Linked DNA regions of Homo sapiens. The protein of the gene in region 4 purifies or fractionates together with the protein of the main gene of each other region. This does not show direct contact. Each region holds a gene or a part of one and is shown on either strand. Other genes may lie near its edges.

Evidence for each region.
Region 1: the proteins of DNAJB13 (region 4) and DBT purify together in Homo sapiens (affinity purification with mass spectrometry, with the first as the bait; one large-scale study listed by BioGRID). This does not show direct contact.
Region 2: the proteins of DNAJB13 (region 4) and BCKDHA purify together in Homo sapiens (affinity purification with mass spectrometry, with the first as the bait; one large-scale study listed by BioGRID). This does not show direct contact.
Region 3: the proteins of DNAJB13 (region 4) and SUGT1 purify together in Homo sapiens (affinity purification with mass spectrometry, with the first as the bait; one large-scale study listed by BioGRID). This does not show direct contact.

The regions. Positions count from the first base shown.
Region 1 is NC_000001.11:100,215,335-100,218,834, forward strand, and holds part of DBT (lipoamide acyltransferase component of branched-chain alpha-keto acid dehydrogenase complex, mitochondrial isoform 1 precursor), read right to left. Parts: intron 3,414-3,500; coding exon 3,292-3,413; intron 866-3,291; coding exon 649-865; intron 1-648. UniProt on the Homo sapiens protein: The branched-chain alpha-keto dehydrogenase complex catalyzes the overall conversion of alpha-keto acids to acyl-CoA and CO(2).
Region 2 is NC_000019.10:41,400,818-41,404,317, reverse strand, and holds part of BCKDHA (2-oxoisovalerate dehydrogenase subunit alpha, mitochondrial isoform 1 precursor), read right to left. Parts: intron 1-3,500. UniProt on the Homo sapiens protein: Together with BCKDHB forms the heterotetrameric E1 subunit of the mitochondrial branched-chain alpha-ketoacid dehydrogenase (BCKD) complex.
Region 3 is NC_000013.11:52,659,336-52,662,835, reverse strand, and holds part of SUGT1 (protein SGT1 homolog), read right to left. Parts: intron 1,362-3,500; coding exon of another isoform or gene 1,266-1,361; intron 188-1,265; coding exon 134-187; intron 1-133. UniProt on the Homo sapiens protein: May play a role in ubiquitination and subsequent proteasomal degradation of target proteins.
Region 4 is NC_000011.10:73,957,526-73,961,025, reverse strand, and holds part of DNAJB13 (dnaJ homolog subfamily B member 13), read right to left. Parts: intron 3,458-3,500; exon of another isoform or gene 3,172-3,457; intron 2,710-3,171; coding exon 2,606-2,709; exon of another isoform or gene 2,602-2,605; intron 2,490-2,601; exon of another isoform or gene 2,297-2,489; intron 2,132-2,296; exon of another isoform or gene 2,001-2,131; intron 1,533-2,000; coding exon 1,371-1,532; intron 1-1,370. UniProt on the Homo sapiens protein: Functions as part of axonemal radial spoke complexes that play an important part in the motility of sperm and cilia.

The sequences.
Region 1 (3,500 bases), on a different chromosome or scaffold from region 4:
CAAATCAGAACTAGTTATTTTGAAAGCTAACTACAAATAGTGAATGTTTAAAATGTCCTGTGTGTCTTCAAACAGAGCAATTATCAATATACAAGTTTATATTTCAAGAAACCTGCTAACGTATTACTCTTCAGAAGATAATGATACACATAAATTGTAAGTGTTTCCTGGAAAAGCTATGCTATTTCACCATTTAAAAATTATGGCCAGGCGCAGTGGCTCACGCCTGTAATCCCTGCACTGTGGGAGGCTGAGGAGGGTGGATCACCTGAGGTCAGGAGTTCGAGACCAGCCTGGCCAACATGATGAAACCCTGTCTCTACTAAAAATACAAAAAATTAGCTGAGCATGGTGGCGTGCACCTGTAATCCCAGATACTCAGGAGGCTGAGGCAGGAGAATTGCTTGAACCTGGGAGGCGGAGGCTGCAGTGAGCCAAGATCGTGCCACTGCACTACAGTCTGGACAACAAGAACAAAACTCCATCTCAAAAAAAAAGAAAAGAAAAGAAAAATTATATGCTGACTGAAGTTGAACTTTCCCTTCAGTAAGACTTGAAAACACCATATTATATACATTTATCTACTGAGGTAGCTTCCCCCAAAATAAATGAACTATTGCCTTATAGTATTGTTATTATTATCATTACCTTTTATGGGTTCTGTTTTGTCTTTGCCTGTGAATACCGGAGGTTTTGATACTAGTATAGGAACAGTCATGTCTTTTGGCTTTGGTGGAGGTGGCATAATTTCAACTTTGGGTGAAGGAGGCAATATAGCTCCTGTCTGCTTTTCCAAATAGTTGAGGATATCTTCTTTAAGTATTCTGCCATCTTTTCCTGAGCCAACAACTTCACTCAGCTTAATCTAAAAAATGATATATTTTAATGCCAAAAATACAACTATTTAAAAACATCATTAAAGTTTCAAAATGGAATTTGATCAACTGACAGTAAAATATATCTGTCCAATAAATTAGTAAAAGGAAATAACCTTTTCATTTTCTACTTAAGTAATCATTACTTTTGTATATACTGTTCACATATGCATGTGGTAACCATCAGGTATCTATATTATATATAATCTAGAGCTATTTATGAAAACTTACTTTTTAAAAAAATTTTTTGTAGAGACAGGGTCTCACTCTGTTGCCCTGGCTGGTCTTGAACTCCTAGCCTCAAGCTATCCTCTCACCTCAGCCTCCCAAAAGTGCTGGAATTACAGGCGTGAGCCACTATGCCCAGCTGAAAACTTACATTTTTATACTCAAGTATTTTAAAATCTCTTGCATAATTCTTACTCGACCTTTTCTATTCTTGGGGACTACATAAGAAGAGGGAGAGCTGAGAATTTAAGAGAAACTAAATGCTATACCAAATTTAGACCAATGTTTCTGACACTGGCTACCAGTTAAAAACGTAACAACTTAAATAATCATAATACAAAAGCTCTCTCAAATTAGTTATTTTTCTGGTAGTTGCTTTGGAAAGATCAGTACAAAACATTTAATTCTATTTAAATAAAAATAAACATAAAAGCTTGGAATGATCTCCTCATATATAGTATGTATTAATTTCTTAGGGATAGGCCCCATTTCATTTGTATTAGTGCATCTCTAAGGATGACTAAAATAATAAAGGACTTTACTAAGGCAAACACTAAGTTTGTAACAAATGGACTATGAAAATTTAAACAAATAATTTTTAGGCAGTTACAAACAACTGTAAATGCCACTGGTTCTTAATTTTAAACAAACTCAATTCATAAATATGCAAATTCAAAGAAAAAAGATGATTTCTGATAACTAAATCCAATATTTAATTTTTAGTAATCATACAAGCACTCTACCCAAGTATTCTATACCCATCTTTAGGGAGTGTTTTAGGAAAGCCAAATCATACATTTCTTCTATATATTTCTTTCTATATTATTAAGAAAAAAATTATTAAAATGCTTTATAGATTTCAAAGCAAAATGTTAAATCATTATTTCATCTGATGCCCTTAATAACCTAATGTTCCACGTTACTATATCTATTTTCTGTTATGCTAAATGGTCTTCATACTTAAACACATTTAAGGGTTACATAACATTTTATCAAGGATACATAACATAATTTGAATGTGTATGCATCTTCTAATTTTTGGCTATATAAAATACAAGGAAGAATGATTCCTAGATTATTTTCTTGGGATAGTTCCCCAGTGGCAGGATAACTGGCTGAAAGAATATGAACATTTTAATGACTCTATTACATATTTCACAAAATATAAACTTTTATTTTTTTCCCACAGCAACCTTACTTTTCTCAAAAAGAGACAAACAAAAAGTCTCATTGTGGGGCACAGTGGAAAGTATTCAGGTTTCAGAACCAGACAGATTTGTGTTCAAATCCCTAGTTCAGCTTACTTGGTTTTAGATAAGTTAATCAACCTGCCTGCAGGGTCCTTGTGAGGATTACAGATGTGTCTATAGTGTCTGGCACATATGTGCTCAAATAATGGAGGCAATGATTGTTGAGGTTTATATAACATCTAACAGCACAGGTTTTGGAGTGATATAGACTCACTTTTGAATTCTGGCTCTTGCTATGTTAGCTGTGTGACTTTAGACTAGTTACTTAAACCCTCCAAGTCTTAAAATAGCTCCTTATCTTACAGGGTTAAATGAGAATACGTAAATACCTATCCCAGTGCCAGGGAGCCACCCTGCCTGGCATTCCACCTTCCATTCAGTCAATGACTGGCAGAGGAAATACAAAAGGCCGGCCTCCTTGCCTCAAAGCAGTAATTCTGTGGTTCTCCCTTGCACCCTCAGATCAGGCCAGAGTCTTTCTTTTTTTACTTAGGACCATGGCAAGCTTTGGGACAGGCCAGATGCTTGATACCATAACCATGTCTGGCCAATTTCCCTTCTCTTCTCTTTTTTATCTTGCTTCCTTCAGTCCCTTTACAGGTTTTCCCTCCTTCAAATTCCTATCTCATGCTGTGCCTCTAGAGCACCTGACATAAGACCTGGTATTTACAAGTGCTCAGTAAATGGTAGCTCTTACTGTTATTAGGCTCTAAGAAAGAATAATAAAATCATACTGCTCAATTGATAGTAAGTAATAAGTTTACAACTTCTCATTTCTCCCATGTATTTTTATGCAACTATTGCTTTTCAGTAGCAAATATCTTCATGTTTCCTTAATTTCATTGAGCTATTTCATCATGGGATAGTTGGCTAATTTTTCAGAGATACAAATGTACACTTCCTATACAATCTCAGACTTAAATATTAAGAGAACTTACATTGTTTTCCATTGCCAGACGGCGAACTGCAGGAGTTGCCAGTGTTTTTCGGCCCTTTATCTCTTGGTGTGTATGTTCATCATGAGACACTGCAGGAGTTTCAACAACATCTTCTTCTGAATCTGGTAACAAGGTAAAACTTAACTTCAGTTGAAAAAAAATTTTTTTTTTTTACTAAGATGTAAAGTAAGGCCACTAAGATGTGGCCT
Region 2 (3,500 bases), on a different chromosome or scaffold from region 4:
ACTACATCTCAAAAAAATAAATAAATAAATAAAATTTTGGCCGGGCACAGTGGCTTATGCTTATAATCTCAATACTTTGGGAGGCCAGGGCAGGCAGTTCACTCGAAGCCAGGAGTTCAAGACCAGCCTGGCCAATATGGCGAAACCCCATCTCTACTAAAGACACAAAAATTAGCCAGGCATGGTGGTGCATGTCTGTAGTCCCAGCTACTCGGGAGACTGAGGCACGAGAATCGCTTGAGCCGAGGAGGCAGAGGTTGCAGTGAGCCAAGATCGCACCACTGCACTCCAGCCTGGGTGAAAACAGAGCAAGACTCTGTCTCAAAACAATAACAACAGCAGCAAATAAATAAGTAAATACTCACATAAAATTTTAAAATAAAAAAAAACGGGAGATTTCAGAGGAGGCAGGATGTATAGTGGTTACCCACATAGGAGGTAGGATGAGGGTCTCTAGGGTTAAACTGCTGGTGTTTGAATCTGGTTCTGTCTCTTTCCAGCCACGCGGCCTTGGACAGGAGCCAGTCTCTGTGAACCTGCGTGCCCTCGTGGGGATGGCATCCACCTCACAGGCTGGTGGAGAGGCGGGGAAAGCACCTGCCGCAGCTCTGGCAGGAATGCCTCACCAGCTAGGATCAGATAGTACCCCTCCAGGAAGCACCAGCATCAGATGGCACACCAGGGAAAGCTTCCTAAAGAAGGGGGAGTTCAGCCAAGGGGTCAGAACACTTCAGTCCTAGGGAAAAACCAAGGCTCCAAGGCAAGAGAAGAAAGCCTGGCGCCCTGGGACCCTGAAGACTGGCATGGCTGCTATAGGTCAATCAGAGAATAACTACATGCTGAGGTGCCACTCAAAGCACTTTATTTACACCTATGTGCTCACTGAACCCATAAGGCATCCAGACGGGGCAGGCACTGTTATCATAACTCCATCAAAGACAGGTGGTAGCTGAGGCGCCGCCTCAAGGGCTAAGCAACTTGTTCAGGTCCAGTGCATGCAAGGCTTTGTGGATGGTGCCAGTTAACTCCAAGTCCTCCGTATCTAGGGTAGCTAAGGCCACCCAAACCCACTCTCTCCTGAGCTCAAAGGCACTCTGCCCTCAAACAGAGCAAAGAGTTGAGTCCCCCTTCCCAGAATATCTCGTGAGAAGGGAAAGGCGTGCAGATTAGGCAGGTATCACTGTCCCTGTTTCACAGACAGAGACCTGGTGTTTGGGGTCTGGAACGCTTCTCTGAGGAAGTGTCATGTCAGCCATCATCTGAAGGACCTCATACCTACAAAGGCCACCAGGTGGGAGGAGGCACATTCAAGGAAGGGAAAGATGGCCAGGGGGACTGAAGTGGAAAGAGGCGAAAGACAAGAAAAATCACCTGCCCGGCCACACATGGTGGCTCACGCCTGTAACCCCAGCACTTTGGGAGGCTGAGGTGGGTGGATCAGTTGAGGCCAGGAGTTCGAGACCAGCCTGGCCAACATGGCAAAACCCTGTCTCTATTAAAAATATAAAAATTAGCCGGACACGGTGGCACACACCTGTAGTCCCAGCTACTCGAGAGGGGGAGGCAGGACAATCGCTTAACCCAGGAGGCAGAGGTTGCAGTGAGCAGAAATCACGCCACTGCACTCCAGCCTGGGTAACAGAGCAAGACTCCGTCTCAAAAAAATATAAAACAAAATAAGCCAATACTGGACTAAGAAGAATGTTGCAAGACTTGAATCTAAGCTCCATCCTTTCTCCTCCTGGCAGCCTGGTACCATGAAAAGAAACTGGGTTTTGGAGTCCAGAGCTCCAAGTTCAGACCTCACCTCTCTGAGCCTCAGTCTCTCCATCTGTAATAGGAGAGTACTACCAATAAAGGCCTTGCACTATTGGTGTATTAAATATAATAAAAAATTAGAGTTGGATTTGTAAACCATTCAGTGCCTCAAGATGTGAAAAAGGAGGCCAGGTTTCTTAACACACTAGCAAGTAAGAGATGGACCCATACACTTAGAAGACTGTAATGACCATCTCCATTCATCCCACAATACACACTGACATGGTTTGTCTCTGTCCCCACTCAAATCTCATCTTGAATTATAGCTCCCATAATTCCCACATGTTGTGGGAAGGAGCCAGTGGGAGGTAATTGAATTATGGGGGTGGATCTTTCACGTGCTGTTCTCATTATACTGAATAAGTCTCACGAGATCTGATGGTTTTATAAAGGGGAGTTCCCCTGCAAGCACTCTGTCTGCCTGCCACCATGTAAGATGTGACTTTGCTCCTCATTTGCCTTCCGCCATGTTTGTGAGGCTTCCCCAGCCATGTGGAACTGTGAGTCCATTAAGCCTCTTTTTCTTTATAAATTACCCAGTCTTGGGTGTGTTTTTATTAGCAGCCTGAAAACGGACTAATACATACACTGAGTACCTACCACTTGGAGATACTGCACAGGGCACTGGAACCCCCAGACAGGCTGCCCCTGAAGAGCTGGGTCACAGAAATAGTCACCGATAATTAGCACAGAGCGAGCTCCAGGGGCTTCCTGACTTCCAACAGGGTAGGGACTCTATTCACCCCACTAGCTAGGGTCAGAGAGGTGAAATGACTTAGCCAAGCCCAGGCCTGGGGTAGTGGCTGAGAAACTGACTCACAATTCCTTGACAATCTGAGTTTCCTTCCTCCTCCTTTCCCTGAGCACTAAAACGTCTGCTATGATAACAGAGACAGGAAGGGAGGTGAAAATCAGGCAAACACATCTGCAGGGCAGCAGGGTATTCAATGAAGGAGTGGGCAGAGCAGGGGCAAGAAGTCGGGGACAAGTAAAGCAGCCCCACTCCTCCTTCTAATCCAATCTTCCCCAGTGAACCCAGTAATCCAATCTGTCTACAATATGCAGCCTCTCAACCTTTCCCTGACTATTTCTTCATCTCCACCTGGATAAAACTGCATCATCTTAGCCAGGCATGGTGGCTCACACCTGTAATCCCAGCACTCTGGGAGGCCGAGGTGGGTGGGTCGCCTGAGGTCGGGAGTTCAAGACCAGCCTGATCAACATGGAGAAACCCTGTCTCTACTAAAAATACAAAATTAGCCAGGCATGGTGGTGCATGCCTGTAATCCCAGCTACTCGGGAGGCTGAGGCAGGAGAATCGCTTGAACCCAGGAAGAGGAGGTTGTGGTGAGCCAAGATCATGCCATTGCACTCCAGCCTAGGCAATGAGAGCAAAACTCCACCTCGAAAAAACAAAAAACAAAACAAAACAAAAACCCTGCACCATCTAATGTGGCAGCCACCAACCACTTGTGGCTATCTTATTTTGAGACAGAGGGCTGCTCTGTCACCTAGGCTGGGGTATAGTGGTGCGATCTCGGCTCACTGCAATCTCCGCCTCCCAGGTTCAAGCGATTCTTCTGCCTCAGCCTCCCAAGTAGCTGGGACTACAGGCACACGCCATTACGCCCAGCTAATTTTTTTGTATTTTTAGTAGAGATGGGGTTTCACCATGTTGGCCA
Region 3 (3,500 bases), on a different chromosome or scaffold from region 4:
AAGTCCACATCTAAGGAAACGTATACTATTTAAAAGAAATTATAAAGATAAAAACAAATTTGTTTAAACCAAAAAAATTTCAGATGTTTACTTCTTTTTAAATTGAAACAAATACCAAGGGAGACCCACATACCATTCTGAGCTTCTTGACACCTTTTAATCCAGACACTGAAATTAGCATCTGCACCTAGAAAGAAAAAACTGACTATAACATCACTCATCTGCACAACCTATAAATCAACAAATACTTACTGAATACCTACTACATCCCAGGCAGTGTTCTAGGCACTGGGGAGTCGGCAGCGAACAAAACCTGTCTTAACAGACCTTATCACCAACTCTACTATAGTTATAAATATACCAATAGTTTAACATTTAGTTGTTAATCATGAAACATTTTGATTTTTTAAAAATTTTAACTACAGTCAACCTTAATTTCACAGATACAAATAATCTGCATTTCCCCCAATCCCGCTGCTCTTAGAGAAGCTTCCTCACACACAGAACAAAATCAGATGTAAATCAGACTCCCAATATGCCATCAGTTAGGGTGGGGAGGAGGCTTGGTAACTGGGAGCTGAGTTGAGGTTCAAAAGCCGTTCCCAGCCCCAGCTTGCTCTTCAATGCAGATACCTATTCAGTCCACTATTCTCTCAGTGGCTTTATCTGTTACCATGCCTTTCCTACCAACACCAAGCATCTTTAAATTCCGTGAAGTTTTGTCCTATCTCCAAGTTACATGGCAGTCGAGAGGCTATAGGTGATGTATTATATATTTATAGATAACAGTGTAAATGTATGCATAAACAAATTATTCACTTCTGGAGACACAGAACAATGATTACATTTAAACAGTCACAGTGCATAGTAAGATATGTTAAAAGTATTAAAAGTACTCTAAATAAGAGCTTATTAATTCAAGTTAACTGCAGACAAGATAAATTTGAAAATCTTAAATTAAAAATTTCTTAACAAAAATTTCTACTTTACTAATTTATAAAAGAAATCCAACTATACCAGCATTAATAAAAAATTTAAATACACTCTCACACACACTGTATTCTAGAGAACTATTGTATCAAAATCTATTATATCAAAAAGATTTGAGTAACCTATTATTTTAAGTAATCAGTAACTAAAACCAAGCAATTTATCACACAAAGAGGGGAAAAGGTAACAATTCTTTACCCTGTCTGATAAAAATAGAAGCCTAAAAGTTTAACTTAACTTTTTCCCAGATTTTGGCCGGGCATGGTGGCTCATACCTGTAATCCCAGCACTTTGGGAGTCCAAGGCAGGTGGATCACTTGAGGTCAAGAGTTGGAGACCAGCCTGGCCAACACGATGAAACCCCGTCTCTACTAAAAATACAAAAATTAGCCAGGCTTGGTGGTGCATGCCTGTAGTCCCAGCTGCTCAGGAGGTTGAGGCAGGAGAATCACCTGAACTTGAGAGACAGAGAACTGCACTATGGCCTGGACAACACAGTGAGACTCAGTCTCAAAAAAAGAAACAAACAAACAAACAAACAAAAACAAAAAAAAACCCCAAAAAACAACAACAAAAAAAGTTTCCTGGATTTAAAGACAAATTTATTTTTAAGTAAAATATCCTCAACAGCAATTTTACCAAACAGGTCTTCCTCTGAAGGCCACCTCTGAAATAACTAAAGAATAAATGTCAATGGCATGATATTAAGATATTACTCAAGAAAATAATCTAGGGGCCAGACGCAGTGGCTCATGCCTGTAACCCCAGCACTTTCAGAGGCCGAGGCAGGCAGAACGCTTGAGTCCAGGAGTTCAAGACCAGCCTGGGCAACATGGCAAATCCCCATCTCTGCAAAAAATAAAATGCAAAAATTAGTCAGGTGTGGTGGCATGTGCCTGTAGCCCCAGTTACTCAGGAGGCTGAGGTGGGAGGATCACTTGAGCCCAAGAGGTGGAGGCTGCAGTGACCCAAGATCGCACCACTGCACTCCAGCCTGGGCGACAGAGCGAGACCTTCTCTCGCTAAAAAAAGAAAGAAAAATGAAAATGTAGAGAATGGTATGACTCATGTTTCTTCAGGATTTTCACATTAGGTACCAAGGCACTACATAACTTCACTCTAGAATTTGCTAAGAGTGCAGATGTCCTGTTTGCTGACTGAATAGGCCTACTATTCACATACCAAAACTGGGATAAGCAAGTTTGAGAATAAGCCTTATCACCCAGACCTCTCCTTTTTTAATTTGTAGCTTCCATTTGCATAATCAGTGCTAAAATCCTTTTTTCTGAATAGGTACACAACAGAAAGGCAAACATTCAAAACAGTACAGAGTAAGAATGTAACATAAAATACTAAGAGTGAAGTTTCTTAATTTCAGCACTACTGACATTTTGGACCATATACTTCTTTGTTAGGCAGAACTGTCCTGGGCATTATAGAATATTTAGTAGCACCCCTGGTTTATACTCATTAGATGTCAGTAGCACAACCCCCATCCACCATTCATGATTATCAAAAATCTCTTCAGACATTGCATAAAGTTTCCTGGGAAGCAAAACCGTTTCCAGTTAAGAACCACTTCTTTAGAGAACTGTGATAAAACTCTATCATAACATAAAGATAAAATGATAATACAAGTAGGATTATGTAGTCTCCAATTTTCTGAAATTACTCACAACCTCTTAGTATTTTTCAGATTTAAAAATTCTTGGCTCTCGGCTGGGTGCAGTGGCTCATGCCTGTAATCCCAGCACTTTGGGAGGCCGAGGAGGGTGGATCACAAGGTCAGGAGATTGAGACCATCCTGGCTAACATGGTGAAACCCCATCTCTACTAAAAATACAAAAAAATTGGCCGGGCGTGGTGGTGGTCGCCTGTAGTCCCAGCTACTCGGGGGGCTGAGGCAGAAGAATGGCGTGAACCCGGGAGGCAGAGCTTGCAGTGAGTCGAGATCGCGCCACTGCACTCCAGCCTGGGCGACAGAGTGAGACTCCGTCTCAAAAAAAAAAAAAAAAAAAAAAAAAAAAAAAATATATATATATATATATATATATATTCTTGACTCTCACAATTTCTATATGTCTAGATATCCACACCACTGTGATACTTTTCATATATTCCCTCAAGAATATAACATTAAAAGTCACAATACTCTCAAAACTGTGTTTCTTCTGTACCCTCTCATAATTTACCCAAACGTACACTTCACTTCTCCATAAAAACCTTTAATGTTAAGATTTCACATCTCAGCAATCTGAATAATTTAAAATGAACAGACTTCTGACCAAGGCAAATTAAACTTTCACTTCTCCATTAGAAAAAAACAAAGCCAGACTAAACAGAGAGAGCATGTTAGGTGTTTCCATAGTTTTTTTTACTTCTAATGGTGAAGTTCATCTATGATTTAAATGCCAAAAGGCTAATTTAATCGATTTTAAGTGATCTCATATCTGCAATCAATATGAAATATAATTTAGATGAGAAAAACAGGTATTGGGTTTCTACAATTA
Region 4 (3,500 bases):
AGTGAGCCACCACACCTGGCCTCGGTGATTTTTTAAAGCACCTAATTCCCTGTTTTGAACCCCTTTCTGCTTCACGTGGCTAAAACAGTATTTGCTTCTGCAATGGATCCCTAATAGACATCTGTACAATGAAATCTTATGCAGATCTGTACATAGTATATAGATTTGCATGTAAGTGAATAAAGTAGATCTATATATAGTATAACATATAAGATAATCTCCAAGATATATTAAGTGAAAAAAAAAATCATTGTGTAAAATTTGGCCCTATTTCCTTAATAAAAGGCTTCTGTAAAAATAAATACAGCTCATACAAGCATGGCAAGTTTCTGGAAGGATACATAAACTGTTTACTAATAGCTGCTTCCCTAGTAGCTGCTTCTGAGGAAGAAAATGGAGGGCTCGGCCAGACACGGTGGCTCATGCCTGTAATCCCAGCACTTTGGGAGGCCGAGGTGGGCAGATCACCTGAGGTCAGGAGTTCAAGACCAGCCTGGCCAACATGGCGAAACCCTGTCTCTACTCTATGAAAAATACAAAAATTAGCTGGGCGTGGTGACTCACACCTGTAATCCCAGCACTTTGGGAGGCAGAGGTGGGCAGATCAGCTGAGGTCAGGAGTTCAAGACCAGCCTGGCAGACATGGTGAAACCACGTCTCTACTAAAAAATATAAAATTATTAGCTGGGTGTGGTGGTGGGTGCCTGTAATCCCAGCTACTCAGGAGGCTGAGGCAGGGAGAACTGCTTGAACCCCGGAGGCGGAGGTTGCAGTGAGCAGAGATCATGCCACTGCACTCCAGCCTGGGTGACAGAACAGGACTCCATCTAAAAAATAAAAATAAAAAAGAAAGAAAGAAAAAGAAAATGGAGGGCTGGAATGTATTTCTTTTTCAATGAATTCTGTTTTACTTTTTCTTTTGCAATGTGTTTTATATATATTTATTAAAGTAAAAATAGGCCGGGCACGGTGGCTCATGCCTGTAATCCTAGCACTTTGGGAGGCCAAGGCCTTAGGCAGATTGCCTGAGCTCAGGAGTTCGAAACCAGCCTGGGCAACATGGTGAAACCTCGTCTCTACTAAAAATATAAAAAAATTAACTGGGTGTGGCAGCGTGCGCCTGTAGTCCCAGCTACTTGGGAGGCTGAGGGAGGAGAATCATTTGAACCCGGGAGGCAGAGGTTGCAGTAAGCCATGATCCCACTACTGCACTCCAGCCTGGGAAACAGAGTGAGTCTCCATCTCCAAAAAAAATAAGTAAATAAAATAAAATAATAAAGTAAAAATAAAAACAAAACTACTCAACGAAAACATCACTTATAGCAGTGTCCTTTCTCTATAAGGCAAGGTGGGGGAGGAAGACCTCTTACCACTGAAGGGGTTGTTTCCACCAAAGAACTCGTGGAACACCTTTTCAGGTTTGCCATGGAAGACGTAACCAGTTGTCCATGGGGTCTGGGATCCAAACTCCAAAGGAATCCCACCCTTCAGGCCCTCTTCTCCAAACTTGTCGTAGATGCCTCTCTTCATGGCTGTGGATGGGCATCACCTTAAGGAGGTGTCCAACTTTGGGGGCTGAGATAGGTGGAGGGGCTGGGAAGCAGGCGGATATGGAGAAAGGGAAGGGGCAGAAGCAGCCTGATCCCAAAGTGCCTGCTGTCTGGCAGTCTTTGGAATGAGACCCTAGGAGTCAGGCGTTCCATTTCATTCTGGGAGGACCTAGGTATGGCTCCTGTAGCCCAGAAGAGAGACGGGAAAGCCTTGAGTTTGCTGGGGGCAGGGTGAGAGACTGGGGGAATAACTGAGAGACTGAGGCTCAGGCAATGGCCCTGGGATTTGGCCTAACTCAGTCATCATAGCCACTGTCTTATCTGGGGTAAACGGAATCGTAGAACCTTGACATTTTAGAAGCTAAGAATTCTAGAGCCTCCAAATTTTAAAACTTCGAAATCCTAGAGTCTAAGGACCCTGAAGTCCTGAAAACTCGGGGCTGTAGAAACCTTAGTGATCTTCTAGCTGCACTTCCGCAGGAACCAGGATTAGTCTCCAGGACAATCCCCCAGGGAAAGCCCCGCAGGACGGCCCTGGGTGCCGGGGCGGGGATCACACTTTCTTCACTCTGCTGGTTTCCCTAGGAGACAGATTTCCTAATTACTCCTGGCCTTTCTCTGCCTCTTCCTACTGTTGCTGGCCCTGGGGAAATGGACACTAAGCCACTGGGAAGGACCTCTGGGAGGGACAGGTGGGCACGCCTGCCCAGCTTCAGCTTTCTTCCCCGTAGCTGCAAGCCCCTTACTCTGTTTCTCCCGGGGAAGGTCCCGTCCCCGCAGGGCATAGGGATGCGTGGGGAATGTGCCCCAGCTCCCACACTGCCTGCCAGGATGAGCGAGTCAGTGTAATCCTGGGCTCCACACCCCACGTCCTCCACCTCAGCTTGCTTCTACTGAGAAAGGCGGGTCCGTATTCTGTCTTCTCTGTGTGTCTAGATTCTAGGCAGGGAAGAAGGATGCTTCCTCGTTATTGGGCCCCCTCAGAAAACCCAACAGTCTAGAGACTTAAGGAATGATCCTAATCAAGCGGGGTGCTCAGCCCCACACCTACTCACGGTCACTCAGCACGTCGTAGGCCTCTGCTATTTGCCTGAAAATCTCTGCTGAAGACGGCTCATTTGACTTCAACGGGTGGTGCTTAAGGGCGAGTCTGCGGTACCTGGAAGAGGGAGAATTAATACAAGTCTTATCAGCTGGTCTGTTTCTGAGGGCGGACCAGAGTTCAGAGCCGGCACTCTGTTCACTCCTGCCTAGCTATAAATCCGGGGTGACTTCACCAGCTGTGGTGGCTGCGGAGGTGCACTGCTCAGCTCTTGAAGAGTAGCTGGTGCGGGGAGCACAGTTGACCGACAGTTCCAGCAGCTGCCCCCCTGGGCATCTGAGCTGAAGCAACTGCCCCTGAGCTGCCCTCAATGCTTACGTGTGGTGGGGATACCAGGGCTGGCCCATTCCTGCAAGACACAGGACTCCTCCAACGGGCAAGCTTTGCGCGAGGGCTCCCCAGAGGCTGGCTGAGCTGCTCCCCGGGCCTCGCTGCACTCTCCCTCCTTCCTCCCCTCCCTGTCTCCACTCGCAGGTGTCAGGCTGTACTGTGCGCGCCCCTGCTCCCTTCCCTTCATACTTCACGGTTTCTCCAGGTGCATTTCCTGCTCATCTAATCCTGTTTGCTTCTTAGAGGACCGGAGCAGACACACAGGCATCTTGGGAGGATGAGCTACAATTGGGTGTGCAGCGGGCATGGCTGAGGCGCTCAGTGCCCGTCCGGTTCCTGTGCCGCCCCCACCCTCTCTCTGCTCATTTTTTCCCCACTTCTGTTCCTGCCCAGTCCTCTGCTATTTGCCTGAAAATCTCTGCTGAAGACGGCTCATTTGACTTCAACGGGTGGTTAAAGGGCGAGTCTGCGGCACCTGGAGGAGGGAGGGTTGATACAAGTCGTACCAGCTGGCCTGT